Linked DNA regions of Homo sapiens: region 2 is linked to region 1. Evidence: fine-mapped expression QTL. A gene starts in region 1. The other region holds a variant in brackets. All regions are shown on one strand. Distances are between the middles of the regions.

Region 1 (5,391 bases):
CACAAAAACAAAAACAACCCCTCAATTTATAATTTATTGCCTGCTTCAAAATCTAGTCTTTGCTTTAACTTTGACCACTATGACTTTCTACTGTTTTTAAAAGAAAATCTTTTCACAAATTAGTTTTTTGAAATGTAAATTGTTTTGTGGACAAAAGTTAGTCCTGCAAATCTTCAGCTTTACAAATTCCTTATTAGGAAGTGCTTAGTAAGCTATTTTCTGGCTTTTCTCCTTTCTCCAACAGTTCCAGCAGAGGATGATGTCATTTTTCCCTTTTCCTGTTCCACCTCCCACCCTTTTATCCCACTAAGTTTCTTGTTAGGCTTTAATTGAACACAGCAACACCTGTGTTTCTTTACTGGACTTCAAACTACTATTTCCAATCCATTTCTTCAGCTGCTTACAGGGTTGTTTTCATTAACAACAGATAATTAGCAACTTCACACAGATTGAGGAAAACAATCTAGAAGCCTATAGAAGCTTCTGTGGCCTGTTGCTCATATTAAATTAAGTGTAGATGCTAATGATCAAGACTTGACATTGTTTATTAGATATTGTAGCACAGGGTTATAAAAAAAAAAAGCAGGAAGAAACCAAGTTGGGAAATTGGATTTCTCTTGTTGACTCTGGCATTAACTAGCTGGATAACTCAGACAACTGGCCTAACCTACTCTAGTTTTACATTTCTTAACTCCATCAATCACGTGTTGAAATGGTTAATACCTTTAGTCCTTTGTAATTTTATTATTTTGTAAGAATTATATTGAATTCATATAATCATTTCCTATTTGCAATATGGCGCATAAACTTCTAGAAACTGTAAAACAATCATTATATCTTTTTTTCTTTTCTCATTCCTGTTCCCTTTATCATCTCCACACACCAGCATCCTCCCTTTCTTACTCACATGTTGTCTCACCATATGATACAAAGGAAACCAGTCAACGCTGTCTGAACAATATTATGCCATCTGGTAGGATTTCCATCCCACTCACTTCTCTATTGCTATAATTCTCCTCATATATACTTGGGGGAATTCTCCCTAGACAGCATCTTCAAAAGCTGCATATTCAGATTTACCTCTAAAGGTTTACCTGGGCTTTTCACCTTCATTATTCATTAAGACCACTAGAAGATGTGAAGACTTACGCAAAAGAACCAAAAGAGACGAGAGGATACTTTCTTAGAGATGTTCGGTTTTTCAGCTTGGGCAAGGGGAGATTCAGTTTTAAATATTGATTGTGTCTCTTAAAAGCTGTATGACCTGGCACCAGGTCATTCTAAAACACAGGTCCTCGTTCTAAAACACAGGTCCGCATTCTAAAACACAGGGACATAAATAGTACTCACCTAGCTTGGCTGTTTAAATTAGTTAATACATGGATAATGTTTATAGCAGTGTCTGGCAAAAAACAAAATGTCACCTAGTGTTAGCTTAATTACTGGGGAAGGAAAGATTCTCAGAGATCCATAGATACTTTTTCTGATAATTTTCAACTTATTTCCAATGTTGCTAGATCTTTTCCTACTTTATAATATTTTTTATCTTTGTTGATCATTGTTTGTTTTCCTCACTTCTTTATTTTACCTCCAGGTTATACATTTTATATTCTACCTAAATCAATCTTAATTCAAGGAGAATCATTTTCCCATTCTTTTATTATCATAGGCTTCTGATAAGAGAAGGAAAGTAATTAGCTCATCTTACTTCAAGGAAATATATTGCCCACTTAAAGGCAATTAGTAGTTCTGTGGTCCAGGAAAACAGGATATTGATTTTTTTTTGTTTGATCCAGTGGAGTAGTTGACATGTTTATGTTTTATTCTGCATTGCAGAAACTTGGAAGTGGGGACCCAGTTTTATAAGTAAGGCCTTGTTTGTGTATAATGGAACATTATTCACCTAGTAGGAACTCATTTAGGACATGTTTGTTAATGGTTTTTCTTGTCTTAAAATAAAGGATTCTGAAACACGTTCCAAGTAAGATTGATGATTTTTAAAAGCAGCAGCAAGAGGAAAGGTGGAGGATGAGAAGCTGTTTCTAACCCCCTTCTCTTCTGAATCCTCTCTCTTGGCTTTATTACTGCTTCTACTCTCAGTTGACGGTGTTAGTAATTTACAGATGGGCCTACTGATTTTTTAAAAAGAGAATTCAAGAAGGCCTCGACCTCTTTGCAACACCTATATTTAAAAAAAAATAACTATCCCATATTTTGGAAGAATAACATGTTAGCTCTTTAACGCAGTCTAAGATAGCATGTTGGGACAGCCTTGAACTTCATTCTCTATGCCTCAATTTCCTCATCTGTAAAATACTAATAATAGGACTATCTTATTTATGAAGAATTAACTGTGTTTGTCAGCCAATGATAATAATGCTTGTCATAAAGTAAGGGCTGACAAAATGTAGCTGTGCCGATTATTCTCTTCTATATGTTATTCTGCAGCTATGGTTTATGGGTGCAAGAGGTAGTTACTTATCCCCTCCCTGGAATCTTTCTGTGGAATGTCTATTGTGACCCCATTATTCATTTCTGTTTGGATGGTTGGCCTCTTGGTTACAAGCATGTACATTATGGCTCTCTCCTTGCCTGGAACTGGATATGAGAAATGCTTGAATTAAGATCTGTGAATTATCTTATTTTCTTGGTAAAGTGGGATTGATTTTATTCCAAATAATATTTGTTTGTTTTCTAAGAGAGGAAACTTCTGGCCTCAGTTTCCTTAGATAGGTTTGAATCTTGCTTGGTGTTTTTAATCACTGAAGAGAGATTGAGTTTATTTCTCTGGAACAGATTTTGGTTTATATTCTGAAGTTTTAATTTCATTTGGAAGCTGTAGGCTGAATGATTATCACTTTATAGTAAGTGTATTGGCAGGGGAAGCTGGCTGCTACCGTAACCCCCTACCCTCAGTGGCTTATCACGCTGACTTTTGTTTTTTGCTTTTAGCACAGTTGGGTGAAAATGAGGATGGCAGTTCTGCCACTATCCAGAGCCTCTGACACCCTCTCAGTCCACAGAGTCCTGCAATGGACTTTTTGCATGTGATTAGCAGATGCAGGAAGAAGACAGTATGCCAGGTGCAGGGCCAGCTTTGTAGGCCGCACTGGACAGAGCATGTACCTCTTCTGCCCATGGTCCGTGGTACAGAACTCATCACAGGGCAGCACCTAACTGCAAGCAAGGCTGGGAAATGGAGGCCAGTAACGTGCTCAGAAAGACAAAGGAAATGGCTGGTGAACAACTAGTTACTGCCAAAGCAAGATAGTTAGTTAAACCAATTTTTATATTATGGAACATTTCTGTGATATAATACATGCAGACCTGGAAGTTACAAGAATAGTAACATGAGTACTCAGTTTGAGAAATAATATATTACCAATGCAGTTGATGTCTTCTATTACATATGCCTCTTCGCCTCTGCTTGCATCTCCTTCTGTGTTGCTCAGGAGCAAACACTATTTTATCAGTTTTTTGGTTATCATCTTATGACAGATATATTTATGCCCATAGGTTAACATTTTTTGTTATTTTCAGTCTTTATACAAATGGTGTCTATTGAATGTATTCTTTGGTGAGTTTTTCACTCATCTTTATAATTCTGAAATTCATTCATGTTGACTTGTGTAGTTGTAACTCATCCATTTTTACTGTTGTACGGTATTCCATTTGTTGGAATAATCACAATAGAATCATTCAGTTTCCTGGGCATTTGGGTTACTTTCAGGATTTTTTTCTTTTTGCAAGCAATGCTGCTATGAATATTTCTGTACATATCTCTTCATATATATTTGTAAATTACTCTAAGGTATGAATCTTGCTGCTATTACCAGAATACCACTCTATTAAAATTGTATGCAGTAGTATGTCTTTTTTAAGGACAAGTTAATAATTTAGATTTCCATTTACTCTTCCTAGGTTGGTGTGAGTGTGTTGCTATTGAGTGCTGGCTTCACGGAGTGTGAACGAAGTCAGACTAGAATATTTTAACTCCATAGATCCATTATATTTCTTTGATTTTTGAAGAAAATTTTGAAGATAATTTTAAAAGTCATAGTTGTACTTCTATTAGCTATCTCACTTTGTGCAATGTGGCTAAGTTATTTTGGGGGGATTCTATGTTATGTTCGTGGCATATCACTTTTCTGATGTGTAGAGTTCTGTGTGACAGAGCTAGATTTATGTCAGAGATAAGAGAGTCTCCTGAATTATTTTTTCTCCCCACTGACTAGTTAAGTGAATTTCCAAATTCCTAACCTTATTCTTGTGATTTAAGGCTTTATTTCCTTTTAAAAACCAAATTGTCCTTCTGACAATACATAAAGAATAAGCAAACTAATCATTTAAGAAAAGCAGAAATCATCTTAATTCCAGAATCAGAAAAAATTGTGTCCAAGACTCACAAATGGAGATAATTTGATGGGAAAAATAATGTTTTTAGTGGCATCATCATAGCAAATGACAGGGTGACTTTCACAGGCCTGTTTGTGATAGTGCCGCCTACCCAGGCAGATGGCACCACCCGATGTGTTGTTGAGTCACAGCTGTCTCTCAGTGGGATAAATCTATGAGTTTCACATTAGAGTAACCTTCCTATAGCCCAGAAGAAGGGCAGTGTTTTTCATAATAAGAAAAAGAAACAGAGAAAAATTAGACAGTCTCCTAAATAAGAGTCATGGAGCAAAAACACCTATTATTGTAGCACAGCCTGATGAAGTTTTGGCACATGGCTCATTCCTCCAACACTGATCTTGTCATTCAACATAAATTTCTGGTTTCTTGCTCACATGACTCAGAGTTGCATATACCTAGAATTTGCCTTCACGGGGAAATCCTTTCAAGGCTTACAGGCCTAACGTATCTGGGGCAGGCCATGGGGAAGACTGACATTTTAAACCACATGTTTATTAAATTATATGTTTGAAAAAAACTCCTGCAATTTTAAACCGCATGATAGTGCAGGGATTTATTTTTCATTTATAAAATTGTGTTATTGTAATAATTTTTCTTTGAAAGGAGATGAGACAGAGTGAATAGGGAATTTCTCAACTCCTTTTTGCAATTTGCTCCCTAGCTGTGTTACTCAGTCCTTTGGCTCTTCAGAATCTATTTGTAGCTAGATATCCTAGTGGCCTAAAAGACAAAGTGCTAGCACCCAGCAGTCAACAGCTAAGGCTTTAGGGCCCAAATACCTGGGTTTGAATCCTAACTGTGTCAACTTCAGCATGGTCCCAAGTCTATCTGTGCCCTCAGTTTTTTTAATTTGTAAAATAGAGATGTTCATACTAATATTTAATTTTTAGTGTTTCAATAAGTATAGCTCAACAAACCAATAAACCCTGTTACATTATTCTCCTCCTCAACAAATATCAGCAAGTCTACTCTCTG
Region 2 (5,391 bases), 43 kb after region 1:
GTATCTAAGTGTTAGTGAGTATATTTTTATAAGTACTGTTGTTCCAAATCACTTGCTGTCAGTTTAATTCTGTAAATGCATGACAGGTGCCTAATCTGATTTAAGCATCACAGAACATTCCAGGAAAAAGGAAATGAATAAGATGTCATCTCTGACCTCCAAGGTTTAATGGAGAAGGCAGGCCCCCAAAGCAATCAGTGCAAAGACACTTACAAGAAGGGTGCTGTGGCTACCTAGCTATCAGCTGTGACAGTTGTTCTTGGATTTTCATTTTCATATACACCTCTTTTACCTGAAAGATGTCCCTTGCCCCTTTTTAACTTTGCCTTTTAGGAGTAAGGCAGTGAGCTATTCTCACACCACTGTGAAGTCATCAGTCCATCTTTCCCTGACTAATGGCTATAAAGCAGCAAGAGTTTCCTAATTGGCATTTCAAAGAACACTAGGGATCAATTACACATAAAATGTTTATTTATAAAACTGTCATAAACTACAGGTTCAATTTGTTTGACCTTCTGGTAATTAGCACAGACTTACAATAGAGAAAGTTAGGTTACACCAAATACTTTTATTCTTGTTATTTCTACAGGAAAGAATCAAAGCACACAAACAAAACAAAAAAAGTAATAGCAGCATATTCTTCCCGGTGGGAGCAAGAGAAGAAAAGAGTACTCTACCTATCCCCTTTGCCTTCATCTTCTTTCTAAAGGCAAATATGCATTCTCAATCAAGCACATTTGCATTTGGAAATAATTTCCTTGTTGTTTAAAAGGCCTCACTTTTACTCGTCTTGCTCAAAGAACACAGGTGTATCAAAACACTTTAGGTTATTCCCAAATTGTTTTTCCCAGATTGTTTTCTTCAGAACACTAGACCTGAGGGAATTCAGTGGTAAAGGGGTACAAAACTGTTATTAGGCAAGTTTTCCCTCTCTTAGAAATTCACAAGACACTTTACCATATTAGAGTCTTATCCCTTGGTTTAACCAACTATGTTCTGACATTATGTGTTTCCTTGTGGTATTAATTATTTAGTTTTATTGCTTTCAGAAGCTTAGTGTTACTACTATTGACAATATCTACTTTACTAAGGGAGAAATTATAGAGAGGCCAAAACACCTCAAAATTTAGAATGGGAAGAGGAAATGAGGAAAGTGTGTGTGTGTGTGTGTGTGTGTGTGTGTATGTGTATGTGTATGTGGGTGTGTCTTGGGGAAAAACTGAGACACTGTGAGAAAATATTATAATTGAGGTTTTCTTAAATTAGCATTTAGGACCACTAAATAAATAAATTTCACTGTTCACAGAAATTTTAAGAACACATGATATAATTAAAAACAACTTAAACTAAATTATTCCTTTGGCAGATAAGTTCATGTGGTTACAAATTTTCTGGACTCATGAAATGTATAATATGTAGTATTATTTTAAACAGGTCAACATCACTGTAGAAAGATACTAAACCTTAGAAACCTGTGAAGTGGGAAACACTAATATCCCAATTTTACAGTTAAACAGGCACAGAGAGGCTAAGAGTCTTGCCAAAGGCCACAGAGGAAGGAAGAGACTAAATCTGGAACAAACTTTCTATTCTCCATTTCCAGAAGAAACCACTAAACCATGCTTCCTCTTGTCATGGAAGCTTAAAATATTTGGTATGGTCATCTTGCCTTTTTTTTTCTTTCCAGTGACTGTATAAAGGCTTTCGAGATGGTAGTGGTCAAGCTGTCCCTTTCTTTTGCAGCCTTCTCTATGCTTGTCTCCTTGGTGGTGCAGCAGCAGCTTATATTTTCTTTGCTTGGCTTAGGAAGCTCCCTTTGAGGGTTTCTGAATCCCTGGCCTTTTGGTGATGTTTGATGCAACAATCCTCTTTACCTGCAACCCACATCACTGACCTTGGAGCTCAATGAACTTTTCATTTACATGCACAGTCAAATTAAATTTGCCTGGCCTTTGAAAACTTACATCTGTTGAGTGTATAATTTGTATTGCCATTTGTTCCACAGATGTGTAACAAGACAAATACCTGTCCAGGCTTATAAGGGATTCAGAAATGCTTACGTTAATCATGCTGGTGGAAAGAGGTTAAGGGCGATACAATAAATCAGTCTCCAAATGGTTTCACTTGGAATGGCCTGGGAGAACAGGGTTATTTTTATCCTAGGATGCTTTTAATTTGAATCAAAAATACTTTACCACATGTTCTGCCACAAGTTCAAAAGGATTGGTAACAAACATTTAATCTTTTTCTTTTCGTATTGGCGCTAAGCCCTCATCAAAAAGCGTATGCAGTCAGGCAGCTTATCTCCACTGAGCTGCTTCCCTTAATGTGTTCCTAATTATAATCGTATATATGGCTCACTGTGGCTGATTGAACAATATGGCAGTAATTTCTTTACAGGCCTCCCTGCTCTTTGAACTGTGAGTACAGAGGGCTAGAACAGAACCAGATCAATGGGATTTGAGTGCTGGCAAATCAAGCCAGATGCGATCTTTAGAGAATGAGTTTCCAGCTGTTTCCCAGAAAGGGACTTCAACAGACAGCTGGGGACCTTATCATTATCATCATGATCATCATCATCATTCCCAGTAAATACACTCACAACTCTTTACAAAACGTGCAACTATTCTCATCTCTTCCTAAATCATTACCCACCATAAAGTCTCCCAAATGCTTTGAAACTGTGACTATGTAAAACAGATAAGCCTGTGACTGATGATGTGGGAATGGAAACATAATAGTATTATATTGACACTATATATTTGTCAGTGCTGCAAGATGTGCAGCTGAAAGCAATGTCCAAAATTTATTTTTAAGATACCAAATACTCACAACATTTCCATGTGTTTGTAAGAGGGAGATAACATAATCCTCATTTTCTTGGTCAAAATGGCATGTTATTGCTTTGTGCGTACATCTTTGTGTCCTCCACATCACTATCACCGTGCCTTGTTCGAGGCAGTATCCAATAAATGTTTCTAGGAAGAATAAGTGCTTGCTTTGTATAGAGCCTTGTGCTGTGGGGGAAGACAGCAAGCTTAATACATCCAAAGGAAGTTGCTGTGGCCCTATAAAAGGCTCCCAATTAAAGAGACCCTAATATATGAATTTAAAATGATAATTACTTTGAACAATTTAAGGATCATTAAAATGAAAGAAAATGTCCAATAGCAGAGGGACTCACAAGCTTTCCCAAATGCAACTGACCGAGTTAGCTGGTCTATGTGAAATAATTTATGCCACCTTCAAAAGCCTACCTC[G/A]TAAAAATTCTTCCTCTTTAGCCTGCTCTGGGGTTCCTAAGTCCTGCTCTTGGCCTCCCTTTTTCAGGACTGTCTGTGGATCCAGGGAGGAATTTCAGAAGAGCCAGGATTAGTCAATCAAATTAAACTCAATATCACCCAAATAAAGTTGGTCAGGTAAAATAAAGAAGTTGACACGGGAGGTGAAGGTCAGGAGAATGAGAATATTGAGTGATCCTGAGATATGGGAAATGACGAGCAAGTCTAGGGATCTGTTTGGTTTTTGTTTATTTGTTTGTTTTGAGCAGTGCTCATAGAAGAGGAAATCTGAAAGTAGGAGCAGAGTAGGGTGGACATGGAAGAGACACAGTCTACATGACTTTGTTCATACTTTGCTTAAAAGATTTTCTCTAATTTATTTCAACTTTTATATTTCTTAGTAAATTCCTTGAAGATAGGGACCACCAACGATCTTTTGCTCATTACTTATTCTTAGCACTTGAAAAAAAGCAAATACGAAATATTTATTTTTTAACCTTTGTATCATTACTGTATCATAGTAGATGCTCAATAAATATTGGAGTAATAAGTAACTATTTACAATTTTAATTTTAACTATCCTCAACTGAAAAACTCTTCTGGACATTTTAAACTCTGGTTCTCAAACAAAACAAATTAAAAACCTTTTAGAGCTAAAAGTGTATTATAAAATAAAAATGTCTTTCAAAATAGACCTAGAGTGTGCAGCTGATGAATAGCGAATATTTAGTTATATGTACTCAGCTAAACTAAAAGTTCTAGGAACTGTATCATTTTCTATGGGAACAGAGGTAAATAATTTATTTTAATCTGGTATGTATATGTATATAAAACTACATCAGTATTACCTGCATGTGATTAAAATCACACAACATGTCTTGAAACTATTTTTCCTCAGGTAACACAGATAGTAAACATGAATTATTTGGATCTGTGCTCTCCAAATATATTTGATTACTCTCTTTTATCAGTTAAAAATTACAAGAAAAACTTTTGAGCATGCACCCTCAATATATGTATATTTATTCATGAATTGTATATATACTACTACTATTTGTATTAATATTCAATTTCTTCTTTGCTTTAGATCAAACTACGTTTAAATAAGAATTAAAATGCCATTTGTCCATCACCTAATGGCTCAATTTGCTCCTGCCTTGGGTGTGCACACCCTGCTCTGGAACAGACCAGAGCTCTAAAGAAGTGACTGGAAGTTGTGAATGTCATTGTTATGAAGCTTCAAATTTGCTCTCCTCTTTAGGACACAGACATGGCATTAGAGAAGGGCAGAAAACTGCACTTGGCTGTGCATAGAGAACACTAGAGACCTCTTGTGCAAGAGAGGGGACTAGGTTGCGTAGTGTAATGAGAGAAGCATGGGTTTTGAGACCGCTACAATGTCTGTGTCTTCTTGGCCAACATTTCAGTAAGAGTAGTAAGCATATCTCCACAATAGGGTTAAGAGAACCAGTGTCTTCTGAAAAACACATGAAATCATCGTAACCCTGCTAAGTCTGTGCTTTGCAAAAATTAAAACTAAAACTAATTTTCACTATGACTCTGTTATTCTTCCTTGTTCCTAGGCCACAGGTGGGTGAGAAAATTTCGGTTAAGAGTTGGATAAATCAGAGTAAGTTGTTACTTCTGAGGATCAAGGGCAAGTAATTGGATCAGGGATGGGTAAACAGAGGGTTTCAATTCTGCATATTATATTTCAGTGAGTAGGTACAGAGATGATTGTTTTATATCCTTTCCTTCTTATTGAATCTCCTTTTTTTTAAGTGAATAATGAAAAATAGTAGAGATTATACTGGAAATTTAGAAAAGTCCTAGGATTGGGTTTACTACAATAATTTAAATAATAAGGTTAATATGGGATTGTAGATGCATGCATTACACTAAAGAGACTTGTAATGAGGCCCAACTCAGTGGAGTAAGTTGTTAGAGAATTTGGACTTCTTCCTTTTAAGGCTGACTTTGGAAGGGTGAACACTGTGGCATTAAAAAAAAAAGTTTAACTTCCTTTCTGGAGTGCATACCAGTTCTTATAGCTTGTATAAGCCCTCTATTTTATGCCATTGGGTCATCACAAGTTCTGTAAAATTCTCCATTA

Direction of the effects. Positions count from the first base shown, and alleles are read on the strand shown. Sizes are in standard deviations (SD) of each study's normalised expression.
As copies of G replace A in region 2, the expression in testis of the gene that starts at base 2,540 in region 1 goes up (moderate effect, 0.54 SD a copy in GTEx).

Evidence for each region. PIP is the estimated chance that this variant, and not a neighbour inherited with it, causes the effect. A credible set is the group of variants that fine-mapping cannot tell apart.
Region 2: its variant is the best candidate, but not a certain one, in a credible set for the expression of LINC00382 in testis (GTEx, PIP 0.53).

What each region holds. Positions count from the first base shown.
Region 1 is chr13:79,870,047-79,875,437 of GRCh38, forward strand. It overlaps LINC00382 (long intergenic non-protein coding RNA 382), which reads left to right and starts at 2,540. Exons shown (of 6, transcript NR_120413.1): 1 at 2,540-2,650.
Region 2 is chr13:79,913,207-79,918,597 of GRCh38, forward strand. It overlaps LINC00382 (long intergenic non-protein coding RNA 382), which reads left to right. Exons shown (of 6, transcript NR_120413.1): 4 at 1,510-1,654; 5 at 3,328-3,416; 6 at 4,366-4,830. Among named protein-coding and RNA genes, the nearest start is that of LINC00382, 43 kb to the left of the region's middle. The variant G/A (reference allele first, on the strand shown) is at 3,261.